4 separate regions of the Homo sapiens genome follow, and regions 2, 3 and 4 are each linked to region 1. Evidence: fine-mapped expression QTL. A gene starts in region 1. Each other region holds a variant in brackets. All regions are shown on one strand. Distances are from middle to middle.

Region 1 (5,595 bases):
TTAAGCTTGGTAATTGTGTTACTCAACTCTTCCAGTACCTTAAAGATTTTTTTGGTCCCCTCGGTCTATGTATTAGTTTCCTGTAATCAGTTGCTTAACAAATTATCACAATAGGTGGCTTAAAAAAACCGACATGAATTCTCAGTTCTGGCATCTAGAAGTCTGAAATCTACATGTTGGCAGGGTCACAATCCCTCCAGAGGCTCAAGAGGAAAATTTGTCTCTTCCAGCTTTGGGTGCTGTCAGCATTCCTTGACTTGGGAATGCCATCACTCCAATCTCTGCTTCTGTGGTTACATTACCTTCTCTTCTCTTCTACCTCTCTTTTATAAAGACACCTATCATTGGATTGATGGCCCACCTGGATAATCCAGGATGATCTTCTCATCTCAAGAACTTTAATTACATCTGCAAACGCCGTTTTTCCAAATAAGGTCATACTCGCAAGTTCTAGGAATTAGGATATGGACATATCTTGTGGGAGGCTGTATTCAACTCACTGCAATTAGAGAGGGAGTGAAAAATCACCTACTCTGATGGTAGATTTCTTTGTCTTCTTATACTTCTGTTCATTTTCGCTTCATATATTTTGTGGCCATATAGTCGCTATGATATAAATCCTTAGATATGTAAAGACTTGCTTTATGACACAGTATGTTAGAGACACTTTTTTGACTCTATCTTCCCTGTATATTGGACTTTTTTTTTAAATGTAAAGACCCTTCTTTATCCCATCGCACTCACCCAGCCATCTACCTAGAGTCTGTTGATGATAAACCATTAGTTGTTTGAAACAGAATTTGCCTTCCTTCTGCCTCTCTTTTTGCCACACATGTAATTCTAAGGTTTTATGTTTTCCCCTTCAGCATACCACTTAATTCTCTTTTTTTTTTTGGAGACAGTCTCACTCTGTCACCCAGGCTGGAGTGCAGTTGCGCGATCTCGGCTCACTGCAGCCTTGACCTCCAGGGCTCAAGTGATCCACCTAAGCCTCCAGAGTAGCTGGGACCACAGGCACACGCCACCATGCCAGGCTAATTTTGTTTTTAGAGGCGTGGTCTTGTTATGCTGGTCTGGCTGGTCTCGAATTCCTGGGCACAAGCGGGCCTCCCATCTCTGTCTCCTCAAGTGGTTGAATTACAGGCGTGAGCCACTGCGCCCAGCTCGCATTTTTTTTTTTTTTTTGAGATGGAGTCTCGCTCTGTTGCCCAGGCTGGAGTGCAGTGGCGCGATTTCGGCTCACTGCAACCTCTGCCTCCCGGGTTCAAGCAATTCTGCCTCAGCCTCCCGAGCAGCTAGCTGGGACAACAGGCACGTGCCACCACGCCCGGCTAACTTTTTTGTATTTTTAGTAGAAACGGGGTTTCCCGTGTTAGCCAGAATAGTGTCGATTTCCTGACCTCGTGATCCGCCCGCCTCAGCCTCCCAAAGTGCTGGGATTACAGGAGTAAGCCACCGCGCCCGGCCTGAGCCGGCATTTTTAAAAGTTGGGTTGCTGGCCTTAGTGCATACAAACGTAAAGGAATTTTAAAAACACATGAGTAACTCAAACGCATTTCTTTTTTGCGCCATCCTGCTATGTGTGATTCGGTTTTTATTCTCGATTTTGTGCGTGTGTGTCGCGACGGCTGGGGACCGACCCAAGAGCAGTCGGACCACGGGCCGCCCAGGGCGGTCTCATCCGTTTATAACCTGCGACCCCGGGGCCTCTTGTGGTCCCGTACCTCCGTCCCAAGCAAAAGCCGGGGCTCTCAGGCACTCAGAGGTGCGAAGGCCCCGTAGACTTGGAGGACGCGAGGAAAACACCTCCAATCACTCTGGCCAGTCCACAGCTACTGCCAAGACTGCTCCGCGCGCGTCCTCAGGAACCGGCGAGGGCCTCGTCGTCATGGTAACCAGATTGCGAACGCGCGTGCGCAAGACACACCTTTGTCACGTGAGGCCGGGCAGGGGGCGGGGCCGGCGAATGCCCGTCCCGACCCGTCGCGCCTCCCCTGTTAGCTCCCTGCCAGCCGAGGCGGGGCGAACCTCTGCCCTGTTGCGTGGGAGTGACTCACAGCTCCCGCCCCTTTTGGCTCCGCTTTCTCGCGGCCAGTCCCTCGCACCACGTGCCCTCCTGGCCGCGCCCCCAGCTGCCCTTTCCAACTGCCTGTTGGAAGCCGCTGTAAAACGTCGTGAGGAGCGCCGCTGCTTTACGGCTGCCTCTCCCAGACTAGAGCCCCGGAGCGCCCACCGCCGTCAGCCGCGTCTTCAAGCTAGTCGGCCCCGCGGAGAGCGAGAGACCCTGCGCACCGCAGCCCTCTCCGCTGCGCCCATTCCTGCCGCCGGCGATGTAACTCGGGGAGGCAGCGGTGCCCGCTGGCCCGGGGTTGAGACAGGCGGCAGGTGCCTGTGAGGCGGGCGGGTGCCGGGGGCCAGCAGGATGGAGGAAAGCATGGAAGAGGAGGAGGGGGGCAGCTACGAGGCGATGATGGACGACCAGAACCACAACAACTGGGAGGCTGCGGTGGACGGCTTCCGGCAGCCCCTGCCACCTCCGCCGCCCCCCTCGTCGATCCCGGCCCCTGCCCGAGAGCCTCCGGGGGGGCAGCTGCTGGCGGTGCCCGCGGTCTCCGTGGACAGGAAAGGCCCCAAGGAGGGGCTCCCGATGGGGCCGCAGCCACCGCCGGAGGCTAATGGGGTGATCATGATGTTGAAGAGCTGCGACGCGGCCGCCGCCGTGGCCAAGGCGGCCCCCGCCCCCACCGCCAGCTCCACCATCAACATCAACACCTCCACCTCCAAGTTCTGTGAGTCCAGCCTTTCCCTGCAGCCTTGGCTTTTCTCCACCTCACTCGGACGCCGAATCCACCCCCTCTTGGAGAAAGCTCCGCTTCCTTTGTTTCAGGCCTCGGTCTTTCCTCTTCTCCCCGTCCGCCTTCGCCTCCCTGCCTCCTTCCCCCTCACCGTCCCCTCCCCCTCATTTGGTGTCTGCGGCCAGCGCCTGAGCGGCCCTGGCTTCTTGTATTACCTGGCCTAGAGAGGCAGCCTGGTACACACGGAGCCCCAAGTTCGGTCAGTGCGATCCCTATCACAACTGGCAGTCTCTCAACATTGGGAAGCTCTTTTCGCACCCGTCTTCTCTTGAAGTTTCACCCTCAAAGTGAGGGGAAAATAAGGCTGCCTGAGTCTCGTTAGGGAAAGGCCTTCAGTCTTCTGCAGCCAGAGAGAGAAAAGAAATCTGGCAACTTGTGTTCTTGTGTTTTTGGCCAGGCTGTGTTAAACAAGTAAGGAATTTGAAAGTTGACCTATATCTACACCTTGTTCCTTCTCTACTGTGTTACACTTTTGCATCCTGCTAGGGAAATAATGAGTTGCTTTCCGATGCAGTGGCAGCTCCGACATCGTCTTGAAGCTAATAATGCATAAAATCACTTTTCAGAGCTTACACTCATAAGAATAAGCCTTTCAGGATGGGTTATGTCTTGTGTCCAAACCCAAGATTGGGTTGCATGTTGAACTTTATGTTAGTAGTCTGTCTTAACGCTCAATTGCACGCATTAAGATTTAAGACCAAAATCTGTTTTGTAATCCGAAACTGCCTCTGACCAGGATATATGTATGCTTCCATAGCTAGGAAAAGAATGTGCTTTTACTTTGGTTTGTGTGTATGTGTGCGTGGCGGTGGTGGTGGTGATAGGATGTTGAAAATGATTGTGACCATCACAGCCAGGTTTTTCTCTCCTATTATTAACTGCAAGTTTTGAGTGGCATCTGGTAAAGCAACTGGAGAGTTCATTTCTAGCTACTAATTTTATGAAGCTGTACTTGTCCAGTTAGCTGTGCAGAGAAAATATTTGCCTTGATGCAGATAGTCGGAATCTTACACACTGTGTGTGGGAACAGCGCGTAATTTTATTTGCCCCAAGATACTGCCTTAGTCAAAGACATTGATATGTACGTTTGGTAAGATTATATACGCTTTTTCTCCTTATTCATGATAATCATGTTTATATTGTATAGTTTGTGTGTTGAAGGCTGTGTTGTGGAACCAGACCTCCTGTAGAGTGGCAGAATGACTTCACCTGAGTCACGAAGGAAGATTGCCTTAGTAAAGTTCCTTTGAAGAGTTCAAAAAAGAGCATAAAGTTAGGAACAGAAATCAGTAAAATTGAGAACAAAAGGATTTGTCACACCAAAAGATTATTTTTGTGAAAAGATGAGTAAGCTAGGCAGACAGACCTCTGATAAAAACGACAAGAAAAAAAGATGCAAATAAATGAAAAATGGAAAATAACTACAAATATCAGATTAAAAAAAGAACGTTATGAACTTAGGCTGATGAATTTGAAAGCCTAAATGAAAAATATAGTTCTTAGAAAACTAGTAAATGTGAAAATTGGTATCAGAAGAAATATCTTGAACTAATAAACTGAAATGGTAAAGATCTCCCTTTTTAGAAGCTCTGCATCCAGATACGCTGATGAGTTCCACCATACTTTAACACTTAATTCTTTTTGCAAGTTGCACTGGAAAATAGAAAAAATACCAAGTTCATTTTATGAGGCTTGTGAAATCTTGATTCTAAAACAGATAAGGACATGTAAGAAGAGAAAATTATAGGTCTGTTTTACTTAGCATAGAAATGAAAATACTGCAGAATAAATACTCGCTCATCAAATCCAACAGTGTGTTACAGAGTCCTGATCCATAGAGTTAGTCCTAGAGATGAAAGCATGGTTTAACATCTACTTATCTAATTTAGCTCTTTAATAGACTAAAGGAAAAAAATTACGATTATCTCAATTGGTGCCCTGAAATCATTCAACTAGATCCAGCAGCTATTTATGATAAAAACTCTTGGTAACCTAGGAGTACAAGATAACTAGATAAAGGTCATTACCAAAAACCTTCAGTAAATAATAATACTTAATGGAGAAATTTTAGATACATATACTTTAAGATCCGTAACAAGATAAGGATGCTCCTGTCATTACTACTGTTTAGCATTGTAGGAAGGTCCTGGCTAACATTATAAGGAGCAAAAAAATAAGGTATAAAGATTGTAAGGGAAGCAATAAAAGTTATTATTTGCAGATAATATGATCACCTACCTAGATGAACCATTAAAATCCAGAGAAAACTTAGAACTAGTAAGAGTTTAGCAGGATTGCTGGATTTAAGATAAACTTACAAAAATTTGATAGCATTTACTAAACTAGTGATAACTAGTAAAGATAATCAAAAGTAAATACTATATGTAATAATAGCAACAAAACTCTAAAGTCTCTAGGAATCAACCCGTGAATACGCAAGACCTTTAAAAAGGAAACTTTAAAACTTGAAAAAGAAACTAGAGGATAATCTAAATAAATGGTACAATTTTCCTTGCTCTTGGATCAAATTACTTACAAGAATACTAATTTTCTCCAATTTATAAATTCAGTTTAAATGACGTCAAAATTACATTTGGTTTGACAAACTCAATAGCCTAAGTCTAAAATTTATATGGTGTGTGGGATAAAGTTTGTGAATAACAGAATCAATCTTAAAGATTTGTTTGGGGATGGGAGGCTTGCCTTATTAGAAGTTAAGATGTCAAGGCTGTAGTTAAAG
Region 2 (5,595 bases), 24 kb after region 1:
ATAGAAACTGCTTTTTTTTTTGTGTGTGGAAATAGGGTTTAAGATTCTCTACTGTGACACATGCCTTTTTCAATTTGGTTTTTAAGTCTCTTTTCAAAGATATTTAAAAGCATCAGCAGTCACTGTTTCTGTAGTGAGTCCCCATTCTGTACTTAGAACTGCAGGACTTTACATTTTGGTTTCTTTTTCCTCTTCTTCATATCTTTGACTTGGTGATTTGCTAAAGTGCGAAGCCTGTGCTTGAGAAGTAGGAGTGCTCCCAGCTGGAGCCATAGCATGTGGTTTATTGAACTAAGCATTTTAGGAGCCCAGAAGATAGGTATGTTAATTACTGGTGTTACTACTTGCAGTTTTCTTTTTGAGCGTGTTATCTAACCTTCAACTCTCAACTTTCGGTGTAGAGAGGTATTTCATGTGGTTTAGGTGGTACACTGATAAGGGATTCTGTAACTCAGAATCACACAGTGAGAATGTAATTTCTTTTTCAGTTTTCTTTGAATCCTAAGGATTACATAAATACAAAGGTCATATTCTAGAGCCTAGTGTGTAACACTTTTCAGTATCAAGAGCAAGACGGTGACCCTGGGAAGCAGCTCTAGGGGGATTGGGGAAGTGAGGCAGGGAAGGTAAGGAAGCCAGTAAGGTAAAGTCACCACTGTAGGCAGCTGGAGCTTAGTACCAGTGGGGAGCTCTGGGAGTCAGTATAGCACAGGGGCCTTAGAGTCGCCTCACCCAAAAGGAGAGGGAGCTACTGGTGGTAATGACACTGAATCCTCAGTAGTCATTGGTTGAAGGCTGCTTTGGGGTTAATTCTCCCACAATTTCTTACCTGCTCCTCCCGCAAGCAGAGCAAGCTCTGGCAGCTGGACAGAACATTGAGAGAAGTAGTCGTAGGGTGTGGATGGGGTAAATGGGTGGGGCACCAACAGTATCTGCTATGCCCGCTGGACAGCTAAGCTTTTCGTGCAGTCTTCCTCATTTTAGTAAACGACAACCCCATCCTTCGGTGCTGAAGCCAAAAACTTTGGAGCCACTCGACCTTTCTTTCACATCTCACATCTAATCTATCAGCAAATCTTGTTGACTCTGTTTTTAAAATATCTTCAAAATCTGATCTCTCCTTATTGTCCTCAGTGCCACCATCTGGCCCAACCCCATATCAGCTCACAGCCTCCAAACTTAGTTTACCCTCAGCACAGCTGCTGGAATGATCCATATAAAACCTAAGCCAGATCATGTCACTCCTCTGCTCAAAACCCTCCAGAGAGGCTTCCACCTTAGAGTAAAAGTCAAAGTCTTTACAATGGCCCATAAGGACCTACATGTCTGGCCTCTTCCTACTGTTATGTTTGCGCACGTGCATGTACGGTTCTTTTTGTCTTTAGCTTTACATTAGTCAAAACACTCCTTTATTCCCCATTCCATTCAGTGTGGGTTATGTGATTCATTTGTAATTCGGTTCATTTTTTGTGTTTTGCATTTCATCTTTACCACTACAGCCTTGTTGATTTTTTAAATTTACATAGTAATTTGATGTACAGTTCTTTTGGTCTTGACAAATGCGTGAAGTGGTGTATCCCCCACCATAGTTTCATGCAAAACAGTTAATTGCCATAAAAATTCCTCCATGCTACTGCTTTATAGATAATCCTTCTCCCCACCTTCCAGCCCCTGTCGACCACTGATCTGTTTTCCTCCCTATAGTTTTGCCTTTATTAGTATCATGTAAATGGGACTCTTAGAATATGTAGCCCTTTGGGTCTGGCTTCTTTCACTTAGCAAAATGGATTTAAGATTATGCCATGTTGTTTTGTGAACATTCCTCAGTAGTTCATTCCTCAGATGTCCTGTAAAATAAAATTAAATAACAGAAGTGGATTGATTTAAAGAAAGTATTGAACAAAAATGATATAGATGGTACATAGAAAAAAATCTTGAACCTGGATGACTAAGGTGTGGAAATCGATAATGTGATAAAAAGATACTGGGAAGGCTTTGCTTTACCTGGTATCTCTGACAGTAATGAGCCTTGAGTTCTTGAGGAAGTCACTTAACCACTCTGCTTCCTAGTCTGGTAAAATAAACAGTGAAATACCTGGTCTCGTTGTTGTTACTCCTGAGGTAACTGTGATTCATGACACAGAATATAGGCAGGTTCTTCTGGTAGCTCTTTTTTTAATATTAACATTTCAGTGCCGTGAAGCAACTGTTACCTGGATTTCAAAGCTGTTAGGATCCACTGTACAAATGCTTTGTGGAAACCTGTAGTGTGGGAGTAAGAGCCTGTCTGTAGGAATGAAGTAAGCCTCAGCGCAGGGTCCCAGTTCACTGACTTCTTTTCTGTTGGGCTTATCCAGTTTAAGATAGTAGCAGCCTGAGTTGGAGCTGTAGTAATGATGAAGAGGTGCTGGTGTTGTTGTAAATCTCGGCAAGTTTTACAGCAACCTCTTTGTGATTGCAGCATTTGGACCTTAATCCTCATAGTCCTGTCCTTAGGCACATTTCCTCGAGGATGTCTACAAAGATTGATTGTTGGTGTTCACGATTTCTCCAAATTTTCCTGTGGTTCATTGATAGGCCATTTTGTCACATAATTGGCAGTGTGTATTTGAGGGTCAGAGCATGTTTGAGACTGCTCCACTAATGACAGAAGCTTACAGGAAACCCAGAAGGAAGCCAGTGA[T/C]GATTGCTTGTTTGGTTGTTATTTTTAAAGATGGACAGGTTCATACTAACTTCTCTTAAATCCATGATTAATGGCTGCTTAACATCCTTGACCAGGTTGCCTTTTTTGTTTTTAATTGAAATAGGATAGTTAGGTGATAGAGTGTCAGTGTAAAATCAGAAGAGTAAGTGAGAGGAATTTGAGAGTGCAAAATGGCTGTGATTTGTGTTTGCTCCACATGTGGCACGTAGTAATATTTATTTTACTTTTTACTTTTAGTAATGAATGTTATAACTATTGAAGATTATAAGAGCACATACTGGCCAAAATTGGATGGTGCCATAGATCAACTTTTAACTCAGAGTCCTGGTGACTATATCCCCATATCCTATGAACAGATATACAGGTAAGTTAAGATTTAATTTGCTTGGGTTTGAAAGGGTATACTAAGGTTCAAGGCACTTGAATTATGCCTCACACAAACATGTAATGTAGAATGCATAAGATGAGGCTCTGTAAGTGTTTTATGTATTCCACACTTACGGATTGGAGGGTTTGGTTTATACTTTTTGATTCAAAAGTGGTTTTCAGATCATGACAGAGGAAGCCTGCCACCTCCACCATACATAATGCAGACACTGTGGAAGTCAGCAATAAAAGCAAGAATGACTGAAGTATCTGGTGTAAAAATCATATTTTTAGTCTCAGAGGGAGACCTTAATCTGTTGGTGTTTATTGACACACAATTCTAACTCTCTTTGGTTATTTTGTTTCTCAGCTCCTGTTAATGGAAGCAGCAAATTAGGAAGTGGGGTGGGATATGAGATCAGCACAGTGAAAGGAGGAAGTGACAAGTATGTTGTTCCACACAGCTGATGTACAAAGAGGTTGTATTGCAAACACTTCCGTGAGTTAGAAACCTCTCTCTACTGATTATCAACCACTCTCTCTTCCTTATTTTGACATTCATTTAAAAAGAGAGAGAGAACCTGGTTTATAAATAGTTATCATATTCAGACCTTAGATTCTCACCTACTATTAGATTCTCTAGTACTGATTAAATGTGTAATACACTACTTAGAAGGGCATATTTATAGCAGATGGTACTATCTTTTCCATCCGAACACCGATGGGGGAGGATAAAGTTTTTATTTAAAAGTTGTGATTGGTTACTTTTTGAAGGTATGAATTATTGGATCAGTGGTTATATATCAAAAGTGTGCTTTAACCTTGGACTGAGTTAAGTGCTTTATGATTAACTTGGTTTGTGGGGGTTTTTGTTTGTTTTACAGTTGTGTGTATAAATGTGTATGCCAGCAGCACTCGGAACAGATGTATAGTGATCTGATTAAAAAGATAACTAATCACTTAGAGAGAGTCTCAAAGGAGCTGCAGGTAAAGAACTGATTGTATTGATTTTTGCTTCCTTGGGTTTTCCTGACTGGTTGCAGTTAGCTTTTCTAATACACATTTGGAAGCTTGTTAATTTGATTATGATATAAATTTATAAATGTTTTCTAGGTGAATGTTGATCAAATCATGTAATTTTTGGAATAGATTGTTAATTTGAAAATTTGGTATAAATTGTGGAAATTTTTGGATTAAATATATTTCAGACCTTAACTGATTCTATTGATTATCATGTCAACATTTCTTTTATTTAAAACTTTATTTTTTTCTGTCAATGTCAATATTTGGTGACTTTTATGATACAAAAATATGTGCATATTTTAACTTGTTTTGGAACTCGTATTATCATCTTTGAAGAGTGGTTTGCCTACTGATTTATAATACCTTTCAATATAAACAACTGAAGTAAACACTTTATTGATAAACCTCCTGTAAATAGGCATCATCTCAGCTCTAAAATCTGGGGCAGGTTGCAGAAAAACTCCTGTTTAAGGGAGCACTTAGCTTGATCCTCCCCCTGCCCACTTCAGTAAACCTTCAGTGCTTGAAGATCAGGTATTATTAAGTTGGTGCAAAAGGAATTGTGGTTTTTGCCTTTGAAAATAATGACAGAAACCTCTGTTACTTTTGCACCAACCAAATAATCTTTATACCAGGGCTTGATCCCACTTTGCTTTTGGTATAGAAGTAGAAGAATGTCTAGAAAAATCACTCAGCAATCCCAGCACTTTGAGAGGCCGAGACAGGTAGATCACGAAGTCAGGAGATCGAGACCATCCTGGCCAACATGGTGAAACCCCGTCTCTACTAAAATTGCACACTCCTGTAGTCCCAGCTACTCAGGAGACTGAGGCAGGGAAATCGCTTGAACCCGGGAGGCGGAGGTTGCAGTTGGCCGAGATTGCGTCGCTGCACTCCAGCCTGGCGACAGAGCAAGACTCCGTCTCAAAAAAAAAAAAAAAGAAAAGTCACTCAGCAATAGATTACCAGGGTCTATACCACAATTAGGAAGCACCCCAGCAGTTTTGAAATAACCACAGTTTATAGCACATGCTGGGGTGTGCTTTGGGCTTGGATATTGTTCTTCACAACTTGTGGTCTGAGATAGCTTAGTTTTTTTGTGTTTTTTTTCCCCAAACAGTTGTTGCACTAAGTAGCATTTTGTTTTCTGTTTCAAATGATAGAGCTGTGTTTTGTCATAGTCAGATATATACTTTTCTTGTTGTTAGTATAAATTTCTTTCTTCATCTTTTTGCCGCTAACTATAAAATCTTTATTCATTTAACACATATGTTTAGTGCTTAGGCATTGTGTATAAATTGTTGATGAAACCCTAGATCTATGCTTTATAGCTTTTGAGTGATTTGCTTTCTAATTCTTCACTCCACCATCTACCTGAATTTCTACCTGAATCCAGTTTATGGACTTCGGGTCTCGCTGTGGACTCTGTCACACACTTCTGTTCATTTGCCAGTACCCTAGTCAGGTTCATCATCATTTCTCGACTGTTTTACTGAAATGCT
Region 3 (5,595 bases), 190 kb after region 1:
CATAGCCAAAGAAAACCCAGGATTGTGTGGTGTACTCAGTTGCCATGACTCCTTAGTATCCTTTAAACTGGAATAGACCCTAAGACTTGCTTTGTATTTCATGTGTTTACATTTGAAGAGTATAGAGCAGTTCATTTTTCAGAATGACCCTCCTTTGGGTGTGTCTGATGTTTCCTCATTGTCAGTTTCAGGTTATGCCCTTTTGGCAGGAGTACATTATAAGTGATGTTGTATTCTTCTCAGTACATTGTATCAGGAGGCACAGGATCTTAATTTGACTCATAACTGATGATGTTAACATCGATCACTTAAGGTGGTGTCTGCTAAGTTTCTCTACTGTCAAGTTACTAGTTTGCTATTTATCGTTAATAAATATCGTATGGAGAGGTAATTTGTGACTATGTACATATTCATGTGTAAAAATAAAAATTTCACCCACTAGTTTAAGGATCCATATGTTATTCTGACTTTAATCAATTGTTATCATGATGGTGATTTTCTAATTTTATTGTTTCTTCTATTAATACAATATTTTTTGTTTCTCCTTTGTAAGGAAGAACTTTCCTTCTTTTTCTTTCTTTCTTTATTTTTTTAGACGGGTCTTGTGCCAATGTTTTAGTGCTAGGGGTTTATTACTAGGTGGATGTCATTGCTTCTAGGCCCTCACAGTGGGCAGAGCTTAGAAATAAATGAATGCACACACACATGCATCTATCTTTATTTTTGTATTGAGCAATGTGTATATTTTAAAACTCATTAATTCCCACTGATACCCCAAATTTCAGTCATGTCCTACAGAGCATATTCTCGCCTTCCTTCTCGTGTATTTGTAACTCCTTTCTCTACCAGTGGGGAAACTGGCTCCCATGTTCCTCGGTATATTATTTATTTATTCAGTCCTAGTTTCAGAATTGCTAACCCATGGCTTTGTGGGGGAAAAAATACCTTATTAACTAGAGTTCAGTATTTGTTCAGTATTTTGTTTTTTTTTAAGTTTTAGTGTGAGGACATGTTGTCTAAATACTGTCATCAAAAGTTACTTGGATCACACTATTTTTATTCTATAAGAGGGAACCCAGGTCAGAGAGGAAAGGTGACTTAGAACAAGTCGTGAATTCTCTTCCAGTGTCAAATTCTCTAATTGGAGTTTGCATCCCCAGTGAAGCTCTCAACATCTCATCATGGAGCTATGCATCACTGTTGGCAGCATTCTTGGGACACTTTGCCACTTTGCTTCTCACTTTGTGCATTTTGTGCCAGGCTTGGTGTGAGAGGAAATGATTTAATAACTTAAATTATTTTAATCCTAACCTAGGATCAAGAAAATGAAGAAAGAAATCTGATTACAAATAAAATAAAATTGCAGTTAGAGAGCCATTTCGTTCTCACTGTGGTCAGGTTGTCTTGGGAACTTATCTGGTGGAGGCCAAGGGGGTGATAGTGGCCATTGGGATCCTACTCCTGGCTTTAGTGGGTGTCCCTTTATTGTCTCAGAGGAGTGATGTTAGTTATTAGTTCGGGATAGACAATTTTCATGGTGTTGAACTATTCCTGGTTTACCAAGAGTTTCTAACAGAGAAGGATGGTAAAGTTTATCATTGGCATTTATAGAGATGATGATTTAGGTTTTATTATATCTAGCAAGTATTAGTTTTATGGATTTACTATACACCAGGCATTGATGTAAACATCTTTTACATGTGTTAGTTTATTTAATTCTCACAATAACCCCACAAAGTATGTAATGTTAGTATTCTCATATTTTGTAGTATTATTTTATGTGGGTGTCACATGTGGCCACAAAAGGAGACAGAGGAAAGGCTCTGGAAAAAAAATGAAGTTTATTATACTCATGGTCCCAGAGACAGGAAGTACAGGGCACACCATGCGGGACCACATGGGAACGACACCAGATGGTCAGGAGAGAGAAGACAGGGGTGGGGGAAGGCTTAAGTCACTGCCTTTTCTTGGGGTTTCCAAGGGAAAGGCAAGGCAAGGCAGGGCAATGTGAACAGTTTAGGATTGGCCAGTCTGGATAATTTCAGTGAGCTTTGGGCTAAAGGGGTGGTGGTCCCTAGTTGCCTGGTATCTGGCCCTGGGATGACTAAGGCAGAGGAATACTGTCTCCCGGAATGTAGGGCCAGAGAGAGGAGGTGTGGCTCTGGACTGGTGAGTTTGCATGTCAAAGGCACGCTGCAGTCTGGACCCTTATAACCTCCAAGAATTCACTAGCTCTAGGAAGAACAGTCTCTCCCCAGCCAGAAAAGTTTATTTAAAGGCACCAAAACATTATAATATATAGAAAATTAAGAAAAAAACATTTACAATATGTCCCATGTTATAGCAAGAGAATTGGGCACAGACCTTAGATTGCTTGATAAAAGTCACAGTGGAAGTGGAAAAGCCAGGTTTCTAACCCAGGGGCCCTGGCTTTTAAATCTGACTGTTAGCCTCTAACTATTCTCTTCTTATTGTAATGCCTTCTTTGATCTACTGATGTGATAAATCACATTAATAGCTTTCCTGGTATTGAACCATGCTTGCATTCCAAATCATGGTTGGTTATGGTGTTATTATTATTTCAAAACACTACTTGACTTGATTTGTAACTTTACTTTGTATTTATATTCATGCAAATTTTTTATTTTCTTGGCACTGTATCAAGAGTGTTCTAGGCTTAATGAATTGAATTGGGAAACTTACTATTTTTTACAGACTTATTGAACTATATAAAATAGAAGTGATAGTTTCTTAAAAATTCAAAGAAAAGATAGAGCCTGTAAAACCAAGTAGGCCCAGGATCTTTCTAAATTATGTTTTCAATTATTAGCCTACTTTTTGAATTTCTTGCAGGGCTAGTAGTCTGCTCAGATTTACCATTTATTTTTTGATAATTTTGAAAATTTATGTTTTCTTAGAAAACCATCTATTTTATCAAA[C/A]TTTTCAAATTTATTAATACAGAATTATACATGTTATTTTCCCATGACTTAAAATGTCTTCCATATCTTTGTTTATATCTCTTTACTTATTTCTAATTCTCAATATCTGTTTTCCTTTTTTAAAAAACAATACTTTCTGGAAATTTGTTTATTTTACTGTGTTCTTTCTTGTCTTCCGATTAATTAACATCTCTTTGTAATATTTACTCTCTTGCTTTTCTTAAATTTGTTGTGTTGCAAGGAACATTTTTCCCTTTTGTTGAAATCAGAAAACTCATCTTTTTTTCCTAGAAAAATTTCATGATGTTTTATTAACAAGACTATCATCACACAATGGCAAAGCCTTTCATGATTGTCTTTCAATTAATCCATTTACACAGTCAGTAAAGGAAATTTATTTTTCAAAAAGAGCCTGCTATGAATGGTTACATTAAATGTATTTAGAGATATTTAGGCTATTGTAGAAGATCAGTTTACAATTCATATCAAGCATTATAGGTAACAGCTTCAATTTTATATCACTATCTGAACTGTCAATTTTCATGTGCGTGCAAATATGGGAGCCCATCTTCATTTATCCTCCATTTGCAATTAAAAGCTCTGTTTAGCCTAATTCTTCTCTATATGATCTTGTGTCCCACTGTGCTATTTCAGAATAATAATAGCTCAGGATTTAGGGCTATGGAGGCCTAGTTTTACATGAAAATCTTTTTAATGGAGAAAAGGCAAGTAAAACAACAAGTATTTATTCAGCAACCAAGTGTTCAATGCTGGGATGGTAGGTAAGTGTGTTAAAAAAATGGAGAAAACATGCTTGCCTTTGAGAAGCACATAATTCTGTCCATTATATACTTAGGAATGTGCAAGCTGCTTTTCATGTACTTTGTGATAATTCTTATAATAACTTCTCACAAAAAAGCAAGGTAGGCATGACTGTCTCCATTTTGCAGATGAGGAGCCTAGCTTGCGAGAAGTTAAATCGTTGACCCATGGACACATAGCTAGTAAGCAGTAGGTTTGGTATTCATACTGAGGTCTCTTTGAATCTAAAACCCACACTTCTTCCTGTTCTTGGTGATTTTCAAACTTTGGGAGTCTCAAAGAATATAACCAGCCCTATATCCCATCTTCTGGGTGATAACCTGGACACTTTCTACTGAACTGATCAACACTAGACTAGATTTTTCTTTCACCTGTATTATATATTAGGCTTTACGTAAGAATTCATTTGAAGACAGTCTTGTGGATCTGTTTCCTTTCACAATAAAAAATTGTTCTAACTAGTGTCCCAGTTCCCGTCAAAATAGCATGTATTGAGTTAGCTCTTCCCCTGACAGTAATGATAAAAGCTGGAGGAAAAATTATCCACATTATGGATATAGATATATGTACAGTTATAGCTCAGGGAGTTGGTTTCAGGACCTTCTCCTGGATACCAAAATCTGTAGATGCTTAAGTCCCTGATAGAAAGTGGTGTAGTTTTTGCATATAACCTACGCACATCCTCCCGTATACTTTAAATCATCTCAGATTACTTATAATACATAATACAATGCAAATCTATGTAGATAGTTATCCTGTGTTTTAAATTTATATTGTTTTTAATGTTGTATTGTTATTTTTTATTTTTCTGAATATTTTCAATTTGTGCTTGGTTGAATCTGTGAATGTAAAACTCATGGATGTGGAGGCTGAGATACAGATGTGAAGGCCCTGGAGGGCAGCCAAAACAGGCAGGAACTGAAGGAAGCACAATCCCTGAATGAAAGGAAATACTTGGAATGAGTTCCATGCTTAGATACTCACCTCAGCTTTCCCCCTAAGGGCGGGCACATTGCAGTTCAATAAGCACTAGGCCTTCGCCAAGCAGAAAGCTGTAATCTGACTGGGCCAAGGAGACAATGGATGAAGTCTGAGTCTGCCAGAGCAGGAAAGGATTGAGGAACAAAATTCTGGAAAAGACTTAGCTGCAATGAGAGAAGCTCTAAAATGCCTCTTAGGTCATTGGCTGTCTCCTGAGATTTCCGCGTACAGAGTGATTCCAAAGAGCCAAGCAGAAAGCAGCAGTTGGGAGGCTGAACTTCTGAGTAGAGATCCCAAAGCTTACCATTGCTGAGGAGCTAGAAATTGGAATTTAAGTTCTTTCAAATTGGGAGAGGTTTGGTTAATGCCTCAGATTCTCTGTTAAGATCTCAGAGGGACCATGCTCTGTAAGAGAGGGAAAAACTGAAAGAGATGAACTCTAAGAAAGTCTTAAAATTAACTTTCAATAGAATAAAGTGATCTGTTAACTTACCAAAAAGAAAAAGAAGAAAAATCTTAACCATTTGGGAGAGAGATAACATCATCCAGAGCTCCACATTTTTTTGATTCACAATGTCTATTACTCAATAAAAAATTATAAGAAATGATTTTAAAATGTTATTATTATTATTTTTGAGACAGAGTCTCTCTCTTTTGCTGAGGCTGGAGTGCAGTGGCACTAGCTCAGATCACTGCAACCTCTGCTTCCTGGGTTTAAACAATTCTCATGCCTCAGCCAACTGAGTAGCTTGGACTACAGGTGCACGCCACCACGCCTGGCTAAGTTTTTTGTATTTTTATTAAAGATGAAGTTTCACCATGTTGGCCAGGCTCGTCTCAAACTCCTGGCCTC
Region 4 (5,595 bases), 38 kb after region 1:
ACAAAAAATTAGCCGGGCGTGGTGGCGGGCGCCTATAGGCCCAGGTACTTGGGGCTGAGGCAGGAGAAAGTCGTGAACCCGGGAGGTGGAGCTTGCAGTGAGCCGAGATTGCGCCACTGCACTCCAGCCTGGGCAACAGAGCGAGACTCCCTCTCAAAGAAATAAGAATAATAAATAAAATAAAAGTAAATATCTTCACGGGCCGTGAGGTGTTTGTCTAGCTCCTGTGCTTAACTCTGCTGGTGCAGGTGAAAGCAGCCACACAGATTACATAAACAATGGGCATTGCTGTGTTTCAAAACAACTGTACTTAATCAAAACAGGGTGTAGACAAGATTTGGCCCACAGCCTCTAGTTTGTTGATCTCTGGTTTGGTGTGCAGGTGAGTTCCCTCCCCGACTCTCCCCTTCCCTGTCCTGCCCCCCACACACCCTGTGGCAACCAAATTTTACCTTGTATCTTTGGGGAACCTTGGGAGTAAGCAAGTTTCCTGTGCTTCCATCAGCAGCAGTATATTTTTGCTTCATAACAGTGTGGAAACCTGGGCATGAGTGGATTTTCTACCATCCTGAAAATGGTTGCTGACCTTTGCTTGTCAGGAGGGCTGGAGGATCACCTGCCTGTCTTCCAGTGGTAGACAGTTTTTGCCTAAGGTCAAAGAAGGGTCACCAGGTTGCAGGGTTTCTTACCCCTTCCTTTCAGCAAATGGCTTTTGCTTTGAATCTGGGTAGGTTCTAGGGCACAGGCAGTTTTTGTTCATGTCTTCCATTGGCAGTTAATCACCACCTTTTTTTGTCATGGAGGACCCCATGATGTGTTCATCGGCTTCTTTAGGTATTCCTGCTTCATCCTCAGGTCTTACTAAGCCCGGCACATCTTGCTATGGAGGATGGCCTCTCAGATTTCTTTCACTGCCCCCAGTCCTTCTCTTGATGACCCAGTGGAAACCCATGGAAAAGAGTTGGAGAGGAGGTGCTGGTGCTGACTGCCCTTGTGTTGAAGCCTCCCAGGGATTCTACACTGTTAGTTCACACTTGGCCTTTAATGATTCATTACAATTTCTGTTGTTTGCTTATCTGCTTTTATGACTACCATCACCAACAGAGAAATAGTCCATGTGTCCTTTATTTTTTTTTAGAGGAGCTTGTCACTCTGAAATTCTTCTCACCTAGTTGAACATTGCAGATGTAAGTTAAAGAAACCTTAGGTGTCTGATGAGCTCGAAAAATTATGATTATTTTGGTTAACCAGCTTTTTCTTACCATAAGAGTGGGAGTGATGTTCTTTCACAGCTTTCTGCATTCTAAGCTGAGGGGGAACTTGAGTTATATTTTGATAACTTTATACTCCCTGAATTTGATACTAGTCAAGAAGCCATTAACTTTTAAGAGGAAAAATTCACCTATGTTAATGTTAAAATGTTAGTGCATCATATTTTTACTGATTTCAGTGCAGTTTGCAGCTAAATTGTCCTGCAGTAAATGCCTGTGTTACATGGGTGATTACTGCTCAGTTTTCTCTTGAATCCTGCAGACTTCCTTCCTGTAGAGCTCCTCTCATTTCTTGGAAGAGGCTTAAGGTGTAGGGTTCCTAAATGCTTAACAGGTGGGCCAGCTGTTTACAGACTTCCCTGAAGTTCTCACTAAAAATACACACCTCTGGAAAGTTTCTGAATCAAGACTTTGGAGTGTGGCAAAGGAATCTGCGTCATTACCAGTCCCTTCAGGTGATTCGGAGAGAAGCATTCTTTGAGGTCCACTGGCGTATGGAAATGTACCATTGTTCCTGAACCTAGTCTCTCTTAAGCAGGGAGTGCAGTGTAGCTTATGTTTAAGAATAAGATAGTGCGCTGGGCTCGTTGGCTCACGTCTGTAATCCCAGCACTTTGGGAGGCCGAGGCGGGTGGATCATGAAGTCAGGAGATCGAGACCACCCTGGCTAACACGGTGAAACCGTGTCTCTAGTAAAAATACAAAAAATTAGGCAGGCGTGGTGGCGGGTGCCTGTAGTCCCAGTTACTCAGGAGGCTGAGGCAGGAGAATGGCGTGAACCTGGGAAGTGGAGCTTGCAGTGAGCCGAGATCGCGCCACTGCACTCCAGCCTGGGTGACAGAGTGAGACTCTGTCTCAAAAAAAAAAAAAAAGAGGTTGTGTTGTTGCTGATGCCACTCAACACATTTGCACAGCTGGAATGCTAGTCTGAATTAGAAGTATCCGTGCAGACCTGGATAACATAAACAGCAAAGCATAGCCTAAGTATCCAGTGACAAGGGACTGATGAAATAGGCAATGATGTGTCCAAACAGTTGTTAAAATTAGGTTATAGAAAGAAATTTGACCTGGGAGAGATGGTGACGATCTATAGTTGGGCGATAAAATCAGGTTACAAAATAAGCCATATTTGTTTAGAAACAGACACATGCACACAGGAAAAAAAAAAAAAATACCAAAATGGTAATAATTTTCTACGAATGTTGGTAGTGGTTATTTTTTTCTTTTTCTTTTTCTTTTTTTTTTTGAGACGGAGTCTTGCTCTGTCGCCCAGGCTGGAGTGCAGTGGCGCAATCTTGGCTTACTGCAAGCTCCACCTCCCAGGTTCATGCCATTCTCCTGCCTCAGCCTCCGGAGTAGCTGGGACTACAGGCGC[G/C]TGCCACCACGCCCGGCTAATTTTTAGTATTTTTAGTAGAGACGGGGTTTCACCGTGTTAGGATGGTCTCGACCTCCTGACCTCGTGATCCGCCTGCCTTGGCCTCCCAAAGTGCTGGGATTACAGGTGTGAGCCACCGCGCCCAGCCGGTAGTGGTTATTTTTCCATAGTTGCATTTTAAATTTTTAAAAATTTCAATGAACGTACATTACTTTTACAAAGATACATGTTTTGTCATGTTTAGTAGGTCCTTCTCTTCCATCCCTTCTTGTCTACTTCATTCTAGCATGCAAAAGTCACTTACTTATTTGAAGACAACCAGAATGCTTTTGTGAAGATAAAAGCACATATTCTTAATTTTTTTCATGTTTCATTTCGGTTGGCTGGGGACGAGGATGGGGGTAGGTAGAGGAGGAGGGATATAAATATGAAATTGTAGAACTCGTTTGTATTTTACATCTGCATTGTCCAGTTAGTTATGTGTAACTATTACAATTAAAATGAAGTAAATATTTGGTTCCTTAGTTTAATTAATCATATTCCAAGGCTCAATAGCCAAACGTGGCCAGTGGTTACCATAGTGGACAGTGCAGATTTAGAACATTCCCATCACCACAGAAAGTTCCTTTGGGCAGTACTGACCCACATGATAGTATATTTAAGTCTCTTGACTAGTAAAATTATTTAAACAAATAATCCTCTTCTAAAATTATTAATATACATCAAATTCGGGTGACTGACCAATCAACCTTCCTTGTTTAGCTTTGAAAGTTAAAGATGACAAGCTTTCTTTCCCCTTCCCTTCTGTGAAGGTGTGGTATGTATATCAAATCTGTCTTTTCCTTTCTTGCTGTAAGGCATTTCTCACACTAGGACCATGTATGTGTATATATATATTTTTAGTGGTATTTCGCAGATTTCACTATTTAAACTGGACAACTGAAATTATTTTTAATATAATTATGCATAAGACTATTATCTAGTTCTACCTTTTTTAATTTAAAGGTTGTTTTGAAATTATTGTCTATAACATCTATATGAAGTTACTCAGTGCAACAATCTGGTAACAAAGGATTAGCACGAAGCTATCAATATGACCTCTGATTAAATAAATAGTACATTCAAGCATCTTACAGAAATAGATATTCCTAAAGTGTGTGTGTTTTGAGGACTTCGGAGGGTCCCCAAAAGCCTTTCAGGGGGGTCTGTAAGTAATGATGGATAGACGCTGGTGCCTTAGCATGAATTTTCATTTCCACATGCTTGCGGGGTGAGGAAGCCATTTTCATTAAGAATGTCCCAGATGAAACAGAGAAAATTATTAATTTTATTAAATTGTGACTTTATACTTTAAAAAATATTTTATGTAAAGAAATGGGACACCGCATACCAGAGTACAGTGGTGGTTTTGAGAAAAGGTGCTTATGTGATTGTATGAATTTTGAACTAACCCTGCTTTTCTGCATAGAACGGTATTTTCACTTGAAAAAAAGACTGACAAACTACGGTTAGACTTTGGTATTTGACAGACATTTTCTCAGAAATTAGTGAACTAAGATTGTCACTTCCAGGAAAATGACTGACAGTATTTGTTGCCAATAATGAAACTTGTGCTTTGAAGTGAAAATTAAAATTTTGGAAAATTTATATCTACCACTGTGACCTTGATAGCTTCCCAATACTTAAAAAGATTTCTGATGAGATAGGTGTTAATACTGTCTCATCAGAGATGTATTTTTTTGATACCGTCTAATGAAATCAACATTGGGAAGATCTACATAACTCAGAGAATCAGTATTTTCCAAATGACCAATGTGTGATGTAATAAAATGTATACAGAAAAGATCCATTTAAAGTAGAAGATAGACCCGTGGTTTTTAATGGAATAGAGTACAAAACATTCATTGATCGTTTCAGAAAATAACACATCACAACTGATTTCATTGCAGAAGCAGATATGAGAATCCAGCTGTCTTCTATTAAGCTAGGCTCTAAAGAGACTTGCAAAAATGTAAAAACAGTGACACTCCTCTTACTAAATTTTGTTTTGGTAAATAGTTATTTTTTATAAAAATAAGATGGTGATGAGTTTGTTATTGTCATTTTAGAATGAATTAATAAGTATTTTTAGAACTTAGTTTTAATTTTTATTATGGTAAATACTTACAGATACAACCTGCATATAAACAAAAAGCTTTTTGGAATCTTGAGTTGTTGTTAGAAATGTAAAGGTTTCCAGAGACCAAAAGTTAGCGAGAACCACTGGAATAAAACTGACTACAAGATATACATTGTTAGGGAAAGTTGCAGGTATGTGTGATTATACCTTAGCATTTGTGTATAAAGAACTATAAATGGGACATTTATTTTCTAGTATAGGCATAAAGTTCTTCTGGAAGGATATAAAAAGTATTGGTTGGTTCAGGGAGGAAGGAATGAAAGGAAAACTTACTCTAAACCCATTTGAACTCATTTGAATTTTAAACCAGATGAATACATTACTCATTATTTAAAAAATATTCTCACACAGTTATATTACAAAATTCAGGGAATCCAGATCTGTTAAGAAAAATTGGAGCAAGTTTGGAGTAATGGTGATGGCAGTGGCGGCCCATCTGGAGTGGCCACTGCCATCACGCTGCTGTAGCAGGGAGGCGTCAACAGGTGGGGCTGCATGCTCCATGGAGCCGGCAAGAGCCTCTTCTGAGTTGGGGTGGGAGCACACTGGGTGCTGCTGCAGCCACCCAATCCACAGCTGTGGACTCAGGCATCCCTGCATTCTTGGGGGCCCAGGAAGGACCCCCTGCCCTCGAAGGCTCAGAAGTGTCTGTTACTACTGCCTGGCTTCTCCAAGTTGTCGGCACTGACTCTGATCTTGGAGCAAAGTTGGGGGCGAGCCCAGGTGCTGTCGCAGCCTGGCCAGCTGTGCACACGCTGAGGGCAGTGCTA

Which allele goes with the higher level. Positions count from the first base shown, and alleles are read on the strand shown. Sizes are in standard deviations (SD) of each study's normalised expression. Not every link is listed here.
In carriers of allele G in region 4, the expression in gastroesophageal junction of the gene that starts at base 2,215 in region 1 tends to be higher than with C alone (small effect, 0.25 SD a copy in GTEx).

The links. PIP is the estimated chance that this variant, and not a neighbour inherited with it, causes the effect.
Region 2: its variant is the best candidate, but not a certain one, in a credible set for the expression of CACUL1 in whole blood (TOPMed, PIP 0.67).
Region 3: its variant is the best candidate, but not a certain one, in a credible set for the expression of CACUL1 in whole blood (INTERVAL, PIP 0.50).
Region 4: its variant is the best candidate, but not a certain one, in a credible set for the expression of CACUL1 in gastroesophageal junction (GTEx, PIP 0.70).

Annotation. Positions count from the first base shown.
Region 1 is chr10:118,751,590-118,757,184 of GRCh38, reverse strand. It overlaps CACUL1 (CDK2 associated cullin domain 1), which reads left to right and starts at 2,215. Exons shown (of 9, transcript NM_153810.5): 1 at 2,215-2,789. The coding sequence starts at 2,423. RefSeq lists enhancers at 1,854-2,148, 2,147-2,286.
Region 2 is chr10:118,727,757-118,733,351 of GRCh38, reverse strand. CACUL1 (CDK2 associated cullin domain 1) reads left to right here. Exons shown (of 9, transcript NM_153810.5): 2 at 2,942-3,068; 3 at 3,955-4,057. Among named protein-coding and RNA genes, the nearest start is that of CACUL1, 24 kb to the left of the region's middle. The variant T/C (reference allele first, on the strand shown) is at 2,684.
Region 3 is chr10:118,557,321-118,562,915 of GRCh38, reverse strand. No RefSeq gene overlaps it. Among named protein-coding and RNA genes, the nearest start is that of PRLHR, 36 kb to the left of the region's middle. The variant C/A (reference allele first, on the strand shown) is at 2,940.
Region 4 is chr10:118,713,154-118,718,748 of GRCh38, reverse strand. The region is part of intron 3 of CACUL1 (CDK2 associated cullin domain 1); the gene reads left to right. Among named protein-coding and RNA genes, the nearest start is that of CACUL1, 39 kb to the left of the region's middle. The variant G/C (reference allele first, on the strand shown) is at 2,647.